3 linked regions of the Homo sapiens genome follow. The protein of the gene in region 3 interacts with the protein of the main gene of each other region in a pairwise test. Each region holds a gene or a part of one and is shown on either strand. Other genes may lie near its edges.

What was found.
Region 1: the proteins of DYDC1 (region 3) and CEP57L1 interact in binary tests that used the Homo sapiens proteins (3 or more experiments, as listed by UniProt).
Region 2: the proteins of DYDC1 (region 3) and TXNDC9 interact in binary tests that used the Homo sapiens proteins (3 or more experiments, as listed by UniProt).

The regions. Positions count from the first base shown.
Region 1 is NC_000006.12:109,154,430-109,158,084, forward strand, and holds part of CEP57L1 (centrosomal protein CEP57L1), read left to right. Parts: intron 1-800; coding exon 801-878; intron 879-1,361; coding exon 1,362-1,448; coding exon of another isoform or gene 1,449-1,460; exon of another isoform or gene 1,461-2,368; intron 2,369-3,655. UniProt on the Homo sapiens protein: Centrosomal protein which may be required for microtubule attachment to centrosomes.
Region 2 is NC_000002.12:99,326,230-99,329,884, forward strand, and holds part of TXNDC9 (thioredoxin domain-containing protein 9), read right to left. Parts: intron 1,425-3,655; coding exon 1,306-1,424; intron 1-1,305. UniProt on the Homo sapiens protein: Significantly diminishes the chaperonin TCP1 complex ATPase activity, thus negatively impacts protein folding, including that of actin or tubulin.
Region 3 is NC_000010.11:80,336,015-80,339,769, reverse strand, and holds the end of DYDC1 (DPY30 domain-containing protein 1), read left to right. Parts: intron 1-616; coding exon 617-673; intron 674-1,198; coding exon 1,199-1,303; coding exon of another isoform or gene 1,304-1,354; exon of another isoform or gene 1,355-3,584; coding exon 3,585-3,614; 3' UTR 3,615-3,665; downstream 3,666-3,755. UniProt on the Homo sapiens protein: Functions as part of axonemal radial spoke complexes that play an important part in the motility of sperm and cilia. Plays a crucial role during acrosome biogenesis.

The sequences.
Region 1 (3,655 bases), on a different chromosome or scaffold from region 3:
TAATACTTACATATATAAGGTTATATGTATATATGGTGCCTGTCAAGTTATTTCCTTGCTTTGTTGTTTTGTTGTTTTATGAATATTGCTCTTTTTTTCTTTTCATACAATACAGGTTGGGTGTCCTTAATCCAAAAATCCAAAATCTGATATACTCCAAAATCCAAAACTTTTTGAACACTAATAATAATGTTCAGAAGAAATGTTCACTGGAGCATATAGGATTTTGAATTTTTGGATTAGGGATACCGAACCAGTAATGAAAATATTCCAAAATCTAAAATATCTCTGGTTCCAAACACTTAAGATAAGGGATCCTCAATCTGTATAAGCTCTTAAGTAACAAGGACCACATTGTATATTTCTATTATGTCTTTTCACTCTTCTCCCAAAAGTACACTCTTATCACATATATGCAAATAGTAGAATTTTTTTTTTATGTTTTGAATGAAACGTTGAGACCCAAGACTATAATTGTTTGACCTGCTACACCTTTAGTACCCTTAAAAGTTTCATCATAATGATTTTGTTGCTGGAAGTTAATAAAGCCTGTGTGTGTGTATATTCTTTGCTTTCCCTTTGTTCTTCTTGTATGTAATAGAAGGTAAAGAAGCAAAGAAAGAAGTGGGAAGAAAGCCAAGAAAAATCTTAACATCTTGTGCCATTCCTTTTTCTTATTTTCTGCCTTAATTTGCCAAACTCTTAAGAATCAAGACCCCCTAGGACTCTATTTGGAAAAGAAACAAATGATATTTGGCTCTAGTTTTTATGTAACAATCTTAGTTTTTACTCTTTTGCAGGACAAGATTAAACATTTAGAAGAAAAACTTAAGGAAGAAGAACATCAGCGTAAGCTATTTCAAGACAAAGCTTCTGAGGTAAATATAGCACTATATAATCTATCACAGTAAACCATATATGTTTTATTATATTTTTATTTTCATTAACTGAAGCCTATGTTCTAGATTCTAATTTCTGCTTCCTAAATTGTCTTTTCGTTACAATAATGAAATTCTCAGTCAGCCAGTATGATACATGGATGTATTACCAAGAGGTCTTTTTTAATCTTTTGAAATTCTGACAAATACATATATTCTCAGTTGAAGGAACTCCTAGGATAGATTGTTTTCAGTTTGATTTCTGTACATATATTAAATAATTTATTCTTTTATAAACAGAAAATTATTGTAATTACCAATAGACTTAGTGACCTTCACATGTACAAAAACGGTATCTTGGATTTTCTTTTCTTTTCTTCTCCAAAAAGCATTTTTATATTTATAAACTTAGACCTGATATCTCATTACAGTGTTTTTGCATGTTACAAATCAATGTTATAACCTTTTTTTTAAATATTACAGCTTCAAACTGGACTTGAAATCAGTAAAATTATAATGTCTTCAGTTTCAAATCTAAAGCACTCCAAGGAAAAGAAGAAATCTTCAAAGGTGTGCATATAAAATTTTTTCCCAAACAAAAATACTGCTAATACTTATTTATATAACCTCTTAATCCTTATACCTACCCCTTTCCAAAAAGGATTTGAAGATATAAAATAAAAGACATGCAATAATGCGTGTCAAGTAATGGATGATGGTTTGGGGTATAAGGACAGAAAATTTCATAAGATTCAGGTTAAAAAAAGTAGCAGCAGTCATGTACAAAATTTAGCTCTGAGTTTGCTTGACAACCAAAGCAAAAAGGAACATATAATGGACAGTATAGCTATCTTTGTGAAATAACAGGAAGCACTCCAGTTTTTCTAGAAAGATTAACATTTTTCTAGTTTTAAACTTCTGGAGAAACATATTTTGTGATAGTTTATAAAAGAGGCAGTAAACAACACAGTAGATACTGACAACATAATAAATCCTGAAAGCAGTTTTATGTAATATATAGACAATAAAAAATAAGGTTTTTCTTATAGACCTGTTAAGTCTGTAAAGTCATTTATATAGGGAATTTATTGTTATATGTAATTTCTATGCTTATTTCTTGTGAATTTGCCCAAAAGTAAGGATTGGAGAGTTAGTACTTTATAGACCAATATTTTGTTTAGATGGATTGATGTTTTGAATGTATGCTATTCAAGTAACCCTTCTTAATTATATATAATGGTATGAAAAAAGTTTTTAATCCCTTTTAATCTTATGATTGTGGAATTATGGTTTTGATGGCCATTATTACTATTTATTCAGATATGAATGGAGTGAGTGTTCTCTGTGCCATTTGTTGTGGGGGACAGGAGATGCTATTTGGGAATTCTGGCCACTGCCATATGCTTAGCTTGTGGATAAAATAATGGAGAGAACAGTAAACTTAACTTTGGCTACTCTTTTATTACGTAAATAAAAATTAATGTTCAATACTTGGGCTGTATTTTTCATAATTTTTTCATTTTAAAGAATTTTCAAACTACAATAACGAACAATATTTCCCCAATATGACTTATTTTGGCTCTTTCCTTTCCTAAATATTTGTTTTGTGTCTTATTTGTGCAATGAGATTCACAGCTACAAAGCCAAATAGAAAAATCACTATAAGTAATTTGCCAGTGGAACACATACTGCCCAGTATGTATGTTTTATGGCATCCTTTCTCTGATGGGTTAATGGAACTTTTTTCAGTTTACCTATTTATTATAAAAATAGTGAAGGTACAGGGAGAAGATAAAAGAAATGAAGGAAAGAAAAGGTAACTACTGGAAGAGAAGAGAGTAATTAACAGCAGAATCATTTTATGGAAGTACTTAGTTCAAATCCCAAGTTCACGGGGTATGCAAATAATGATGTCTCTTTTTAAAGATGGAGGGAGTGCTAAAGTTGCTGAAAGTAGGATCAGATTTCAAGAAGCCTCTATGAGAGATCTGCTTCCCATCACACTGTTTCTCCATGTCCTGGACATAGTTCATTCAACTCTTACATCTTGATGTACATAGACTGGTATCTCTAGGTGATAAAAAGATAAGACAGGAATTTGTGAGAAACAGATAAATATATAAGTATAAAACAGTATAATAGAAGATTAATAGAGGTTTAAACAAAGTGTTGTGGTGCTGTGTAGACAAAGGAATATGTGAAAGGTAATTCAAGAGCAATATTAAAGGAAGCCTTGAAGAATTAAATATTGACAGACTGAGATGAGGAAAAATGTGTTATAGTCTGAGGGAATTGTTGGTTTTTCCAGGGACCTATAAGTAATAGTCCAGTAGTGGGGGTGAGATGGGATCATAATGAAAGTTAAAATGGAAAATATAGCTTGGGGTGAGCTAATGGCTGACCTTGAATGCCATGTTAAGAGTTTGAACTTTTATTCTATAAACAGGAACTATTGAAGGCTTCTGAGAAGAGTAGGGACATGATTAGAGTTGTAATTTTAGATGGTAACTGACAGCAGTAGGAGAGTTTTACAAGAGAGAAATCAGATGTGTAGATTTTTGAGAGAATCATATGTGTAGATTCATGTCACCATCACAATAATCAAGATACAGAACTCTTCCACCACTAAAAAACTCCTTCATGCAATCCCTCTATAGCTACACATCCCCTTCCCTGAACATTGGCAACCTCTAATCTGTTCACCATCTGTGTATTTTATTATTTCAAGAATGTTATATAAATGGAATTATGCAGTATGTAACTTTTTGTGGTTGGCT
Region 2 (3,655 bases), on a different chromosome or scaffold from region 3:
CTCAATATTTTGTTTCATTTTTATTCTCTTAGTCAATGAATACCAGGCAATCAATTCTTGAAAGGTGTTAACTAACAATGAAGCTGTTGGGTTGTGAGATCAAGACAAAGGGGCAAGAAGGCCACAGAAATGAGAAAGAGAGCAGGGCTGAAACCACAGTGAGTGCCAGAGACTCTAGAGCACAGTGCTTGTCTGTCCTGGGTAGGCAGGTGCCAGTCAGCAGATGACTGCCATCATAGTTCCAGCTATGCTATTAGCAAGTTTTCTGATTTTTTAAAGAAAAATTCTAAGTGTGGATATTTTCAAAAGGAGTTATCTCTCGATTTTTAAGTGTTGGCAACTAATCAAATCTGTGCACAAAAAACCACAAAGGCTTGGGTCCTTTGGTTTACGATGTGACCTCTTCTGAGGAGGTATTAACATTTTATAAGAGATCTGCTTCCTTAGAGAAATTTGGAGACCTAGGGTGGTCTAAGAAAAATCACTTCTCCTTCTAGCCAAGACTGGCAGTCCCAACTCTGCTCTGGTGAAAGGTTTGGCCAAGCCACCATCTCCCCACCACAGTTGCTAGTTCCTTCAAGGAGGAACTGAAGGAACACTGACTCTCAACAGCTGTTGCCCGTTCCCAATATCATGGCTACATCACAATACTAGAGGGAAATAATTACTGTCATGGTGATAAGAATTTTAAGTGTACATTTCTAAGATGTTTTTAGTTAGCTAGTGAAAATACAATTCAAAAATATAAGCCATTTATATGGGAATATTGACTTTCAGTAATATTCATTTATACTTTTGCATGTAACTGTTCTTTAAGTTACTCTTTAAAATAACAATTAACTTTTTTTTTCTTTCTTTTTTGAGATGGAGTCTCACTCTATCGCTCGAGCTGAAGTGCAGTGTCGCGATCTCCGCTCACTGCAACCTCTGTCTCCTGGGTTCAAGCAATTCTCCCACCTCAGCCTCCCCAGTAGCTGAGACTACAGGTACCTGCCACCACACCCGGCTAATTTTGTAGTTTTAGTAGAGGCAGGGTTTCGCCATGTTGGCCAGGCTGGTCTTGAACTCCTGACCTCAAGTGATCCACCCCCCACTTGGCCTCCCAAAGTGCTGAGATTGCAGGCTTGAGTCACTGGGCCCCTGCCTGCTTAACTTAATACTAAATAACATATGAGAGAGTACAATGAAACAACTTAGGAAGTTTTTTCTTTTAGTTTTCTTCATTTCTCTAGTAAGCCAGTATATCTCCAGCCAAACAATTCACTGTGTTTTTTTAGAAAAAGTCACAGATGGAAACAAAGTTACCTGAATGTGGAGTCTCTGTAGAAATGGCAAACCACATTTTCACTCTCCTTGACTTCTTGAAAAAAGTCTCTTTCACTAGGGATTTCTCTGTATTCCCCATGTCCTTTAGAAAGCCATTCCTAATTTGGAGAGAGGCAAAACATTACACATGTGAGATATCTCTTTCAGAACCACTTGACATTTTAAGTGTCCAAATCACCATCGTATTTTGTAATGAAGTCAATTAAAAAAAAAAGTTTTTTTTTTGTTTGTTTTTGTTTTTTTTTTTTGAGACGGAGTCTTGCTCTGTCACCAGGCTGGAGGGCAGTGGCGCGATCTTGGCTCACTGCAACCTCCGCCTCCTGGGTTCAAGCAATTCTCCTGCTTCAGCCTCCCGAGTAGCTGGGACTACAGGCGGGCACCAGTATGTCCAGCTACTTTTTGTATTTTTAGCAGAGATGGGTTTTCACCATGTTGGCCAGGATGGTCTCGATCTCTTGACCTTGTGATCCGCCTGCCTCGGCTTCCCAAAGTGCTGGGATTATAGGTGTGAGCCACCGCGCCCGGCCCAAAAGTGTTATTTATTTATTTTTTTTTTGAGAATGGGTCTTGCTAAAGTTGCCCAGGATGGAGTGTGGTGGCATGATCATAGCTCACTGCAGCCTCAAACCTCCTGGGCTCAAGAGATCCTCCTACGTCAGTCTCCCAAGGAATTGGGACCACTGGCGCATGCCACACCACGCCTGGCATTTTTTTTTTTTTTTTTTGGTAGAGACGGGGTTTTTACTATATCGCCCAGGCTGGTGTCAAACTCCTCGGTTCAAGCAATCCTCCCACCTTGTCCTCCAAAAGTGCTGGGGTTATAGGCATGAGCCACTGTGCCTGGCTGAAGTCAAAGAAAAATGAATGTTTTTTAGCAATTTACTTTCCTGTTTCTACTGTCAATGCAAAACTAGTCTACGGACAGTGAACGTCTCCACAGCATGGCCTGGGTTCAAGACAATTACCTGTCTTTGTAGCTTAAAACATCTATTTTCTCAGAACTTTCAAAATAAAAATTTAGACTTGAGAGACTCAGAATGTAAATATCCACTTAACTCTATCCATGTACTCTTAAACTACTAAAACCAGAAGCATTTGATCCAAGTTACTACAAGTCTTTTAAAAATAATGCTCATGAGGCTGGGTGCAGTGGCTGATGCCTGTAATCCCAGCACCTTGGGAGGCTGAGGCGGCTGGATCACCTGAGGTCAGGAGTTCCAGACTAGCCTCGCCAACATGGTGAAACCCCGTCTCTACTTAAAAAAAAAAAAAAAATACAAGAAATTACCTAGCTGTGGTGGTAGGCGCCTGTAATCCCAGCTACTTGGGAGGCTGAGGCAGGAGAATTGCTTGAACCCAGGAGGCAGAGGTTGCAGTGAGCTGAGATCACGCCACTGCCTGGGCAACAGAGTGAGACTCTGTCTCAAAAATAAATAAAAATAAAAATAATGCTTATGAGATAAACCCAATTCGTCTTGGGGAGAAAAGGAGGATACTGCAGCTCTGAAGCTCAAGAGCCCTGTCTGCTTTTGATAACCACTTTATAAATGCTTAAAAAGTCTCTATACCTGCACTAATTGTTAGAAAGGTCATCTCACACTGAACTGCAATATATCCATAATTCTGGTCTGTGGATTCCAGCTTGGATAAAGATTAAAGTTTTAATCTCTTTCCCACGTGGGCCCTTCAAACATCACATATTGCCTAAGTTTTCCCTTCTCCACACTGAACACTTCCAGTTCCTTTTAACTGTTCTCATATGAAAAGATTTCTAGAGTTCCTACTCTTCCAGGATATCAACTAAACACACTCTAATTCACCAATGTCTTCTTAAAATGTGACAGAGGTCTGAATCCAGCCTCCAGAAGGGGTCCAACCAAAGAGCCAGGAGGGCCATCTCCCTTCCTCCTCTGGACGTCAGTGAACGTGGCCCAGACTATATTGATGACTGCGGTGTCAAAATCACATCCATTTACATCGAGCTGACACTTGCAGGATACCCTGATATTTTCTTATGTGAAATTTCTACACACAGTTTAACTCTCAAATACAATTCCCTAATGACATATGACATTTCATGACTGCTTTCACAACTTACCAATGATATGTGCCCTTAAAAAGTATTTGTTAGGCTGGACGCAGTGGCTCACACCTGTAATCTCAGCACTTTGGGAGGCTGAGGCAGGTGGATCACTTGAGGACAGGAGTTTGAGAACAGCCTGGGCAACACGGCGAAACCCTGTCTCTACAAAAAATATGAAAATTAGCCAGGTGTGTTGGCACACACCTGTAATCCCAGCTCCTCGGGGGCTGAGGCACAATAATTGCT
Region 3 (3,755 bases):
AACGAATCAGCTCAGGGTCAGTTAGGCCACCCTGCTGCTTTAGAATGAAAAGGTAGATGGCATAGCAAGGTTTGGCTGACTAGAAGAATGTTTCACATTCAGAAAGAGGCCTCCCTTATTGGGCAGTATATTCCTACTGCAGTGCTCAGAGTATTAAAGAGGGCATTGCTCAGGTCCTGTGGGAGGACTTGTGCATTGGGCCAGATTAGTTCCTGTAGAAGTGTTTACTTCTTTCTCGGTATGTGCAAAACTCTACTTAAGTGTGGTTTTCTCCTTAAAAATCTCTTGTTCTAAGGTTCTATTATAATTTTTATTTTGTCACTTTTTATATTGGCAGATAATTTGGCTTCAGTTTGACTGTTTCAGTCCATTTCATTTTTAAAAAACTTTTATTTAATTATATATAAAACATGGTTGCCTTCTATTAGTATAGAGTATTAAATAAGACTGTGATCTGCAGTTTTGTAATGTGTAATCAGATCATTCTCTTTCAGAGTGACAGCATTTTTGCTTTAAATTCATCATAGCATTGTGTAAAAGTAAAAATGCCAAAAATTAAACATGAAATCAAAATGGAGTATATTCAAAGTATTTTCTTAATTTTTATATATTATAGGAGATGAGAATGAATATGGAAAATCTAGTTAGGAATGAAGATATTCTACATTCAGAGGTGAGAAGAAAAAGTCATTCTATGTTATGTGAAATGAATTGAGTATCCTAGAATGTAAAGCTTAATTTTGATGCATAAGTAGCTAAATTTTTAGCAAGTATATTATCAAAACTGATAGTCCATGTATATTTTCCGGTGATAACAAGTCACAAATAATGTGCTTTGAAGCAAAATCTCACAATAGGTAAAAATTGGACATTCAGTTTGTGTTTGGATTTTTAAAAACTAGGCTCTCTTGAGATATTGAAGCTATTTACCACATAATTACTTACAATTATTTTAAATTTCTGCAGGTATTTTTAAAAAAAGTTCTAGTATTTATTACCAGAATTGTAGCTTTGCATTCTAGGATACTCAATTCATTACCAGAATTCTCTTGTCATTAACAGAAATTGGTTAATTCCACTAATTAATAATGTTGAATTTTAATGTTATAAATCAGAAAATTTTTAATCAAAATTGAAAGAAAAGTAATGTATTAATTTTGAAATCATTTAAAAGTAAAAATCAATTTTTTGATTGTAGGAAGCAACACTAGACTCAGGCAAAACACTAGCTGAAATCAGCGATCGTTATGGAGCACCTAACTTGAGCAGAGTGGAAGAACTTGATGAACCAATGTTTTCTGATGTCAGTATCAGTGTGTTTTGTGAAAAAACTCGTTTTTGTTTTTGTTTTTGATTTTTTTTACTTAGGTAAAGCCTAGGGAAAATGAGGCTAGGCCAGGATTGGTTGGCAAATAGGCCTTTTGCTTCAGAGAAAGAAAATCAGTTCCCTGGTTGCGGATTATATTCCTAATTGGCATTCTGCCCTTTTGTGAAGTGTGTCACTGGCTTATCTATATCTCCGTATCTGTGACTTCAAAACCTCTTCAAAATATGTTTTAAAATCATTTTGTGAAATATATAATCTTTAAATTTGGTGTGGGGGGCACGATTTTTGTTCTCAGTAGCAAACCCTGGAACCAAATTAATGCCTTAATGAGAATGCATGCTTCTCCAGTATGTAAGTACATTTGTTTATTTAAGAAACATGCCACATCTTCCATATGCCAGGCACTGTGCCTGATGCTGTGGTGAATAAGGCAGATGGCTTTGACCTTATGGAGTTTATTGTCAGGGGAGAAACAGACAATTAGATGAACATTTAATAGTCATGGTTAGTGGGACCACATAATTTATTGTCCAAACCAGTATGCTTTTGAGAATGAGAGCCGGATCAGCAGATGTAAGCCAGGACTGTCCTGGAAGAAGGGTACATTTTGGTCACTTTAATTGGTGTACACGGACAAGGGGGGACAGCCAGCACAGTTGAGGAACCTCAGTCAGGGAAGGAAGCTAATGATTTGCTACTCACTGGTGGCATGGGAGGCTGAGGATAGTGCTCCAGGCAGAGAGCATGGAAGGTGTGAAGACCCAGATAGGAGAGCGTGTAGAGGGAGTGAGGCAGGGAGGGGTGAGAGCTGAGGCCAGGGAGAAAGCAGGGGCCAGACCATGAAAGCACTTGTCATTTCTGTTCAGAGGCTTAGATTTTATCCTGAAGGCAGTGGAGACTCATATGATGAGAGCTACATTTTGCAAAGACCATCTGGTAACAGTGTGGGGAAGAAAATGGAGAAGTAGGTGTCAGGAGATGGCTTAGGAGGTAGTAATCTAGGGGACAAGATGTCGATGGCCTGAAGTAAATGTTGTTTTCAAGAGCTGTTCAGAAAATGGAGCTGCACAGACTCAGTGCTAATTGTTTAAAGTTTTATTAAAGGTCAGCTATGATTTGGCACTATGCAGGGAGCTAGAAAATGCCAATGAACAAAATGGATTGGGCTTCTGCCCTTGGGGGCCGTGGGCCAATGGGGAAGCTTCTTTGAGGGACAGAGTAGGGAGAGACCTGACCTGGGCTGGACAAGTCTTCCTCAGGAGGTGAAGTTCAAGGAATTAGCCTGAGATGAGCCCAGAGGAAAGAGACAGCAAAATGCTTTCAAGGGACTGAAGTCATCCAGTATTAATGGCTAACGTCCATGGAGCTAGGAAAATGGTGTGATTTTAAGCTGGAGAGGTGGATAAAGGCAGAGCACACTGGGTCTTGTATGTTGCCTTAGGGATTTTGGACTTAAGTGCAGTAGGAGTTATTGAAAGGACTTAAAGATTCAATCTGTGTTTTTATAAGGTGGAGAGAGGATTGGTGTGGAGCAGGAGTGGAAAAAGGGAGACCACTTAGGAAGTTATTGCACTGATCCAGATGTAAGATGACTAGGGTTAGACAGCAGAGATGGAGGGAACTGAGTGGATTTAAGATTGGCTTACAGGATCAGTGCGGGGCAGGGTCAGGATGAAGCCTAAATGTCTTCCTTGGGCTACTGAGTTAAGAGTGTTAACATTTGATGAGTTGATGAACATAAGAGGAAGCAGGTTTTTAAAAAATGATGGCTTCAGTTGCAGAGATGTTGACTCTCAGGTGGCTCTGAGATATGCAGGTGAAAACAGCCAAGAACAGTTGATGTTAGGAAGGGGCCCAGGCCGGAGATATAAATTCAGCAGTCATGGGCATATGTGCTGAATGAAGCAAGGGGATTGAGTAAGGTACCTAGGAGAGAGTGCAGTGTGTGAAGGCCTGGGGGCTCAGGGAGGAACCATTAGCAATTCTAACATTGAAGGGATGGCCACAGGAAGAGGAGCCTACAAGAAGGATGAGAATGCATAGTAAGAGAAGTAGAAGAAAGGATGGAACAATAACTACTTTGAGAACATAATTTATGGTTATATTCAATTTGAGTATCATTTGAAATCATCTGAAACTCCCAAAAAGTTTCATTCATGTAGTCACATAGAAGTTACCTAAAGTTTATTTCTTTGGCTTGTGCCTTTTCACAGTTCTAATTGTATTAAGGAATATTTACTTTTTGTTTTGCTTTTAGATTGCATTAAACATTGATCAAGATTTGTAGGACCAACCAACCTAAGAGCAATAAATGTTTTTGTTTGTTTCAAATTTCAAACCATGAGGTTCCCAATTTGTATTTTTTTCCTTCAAACTTGAACTCCCCTTTTTTTTTCCTCTAAGGACTGCTTATGAATGGGCTTCAAGA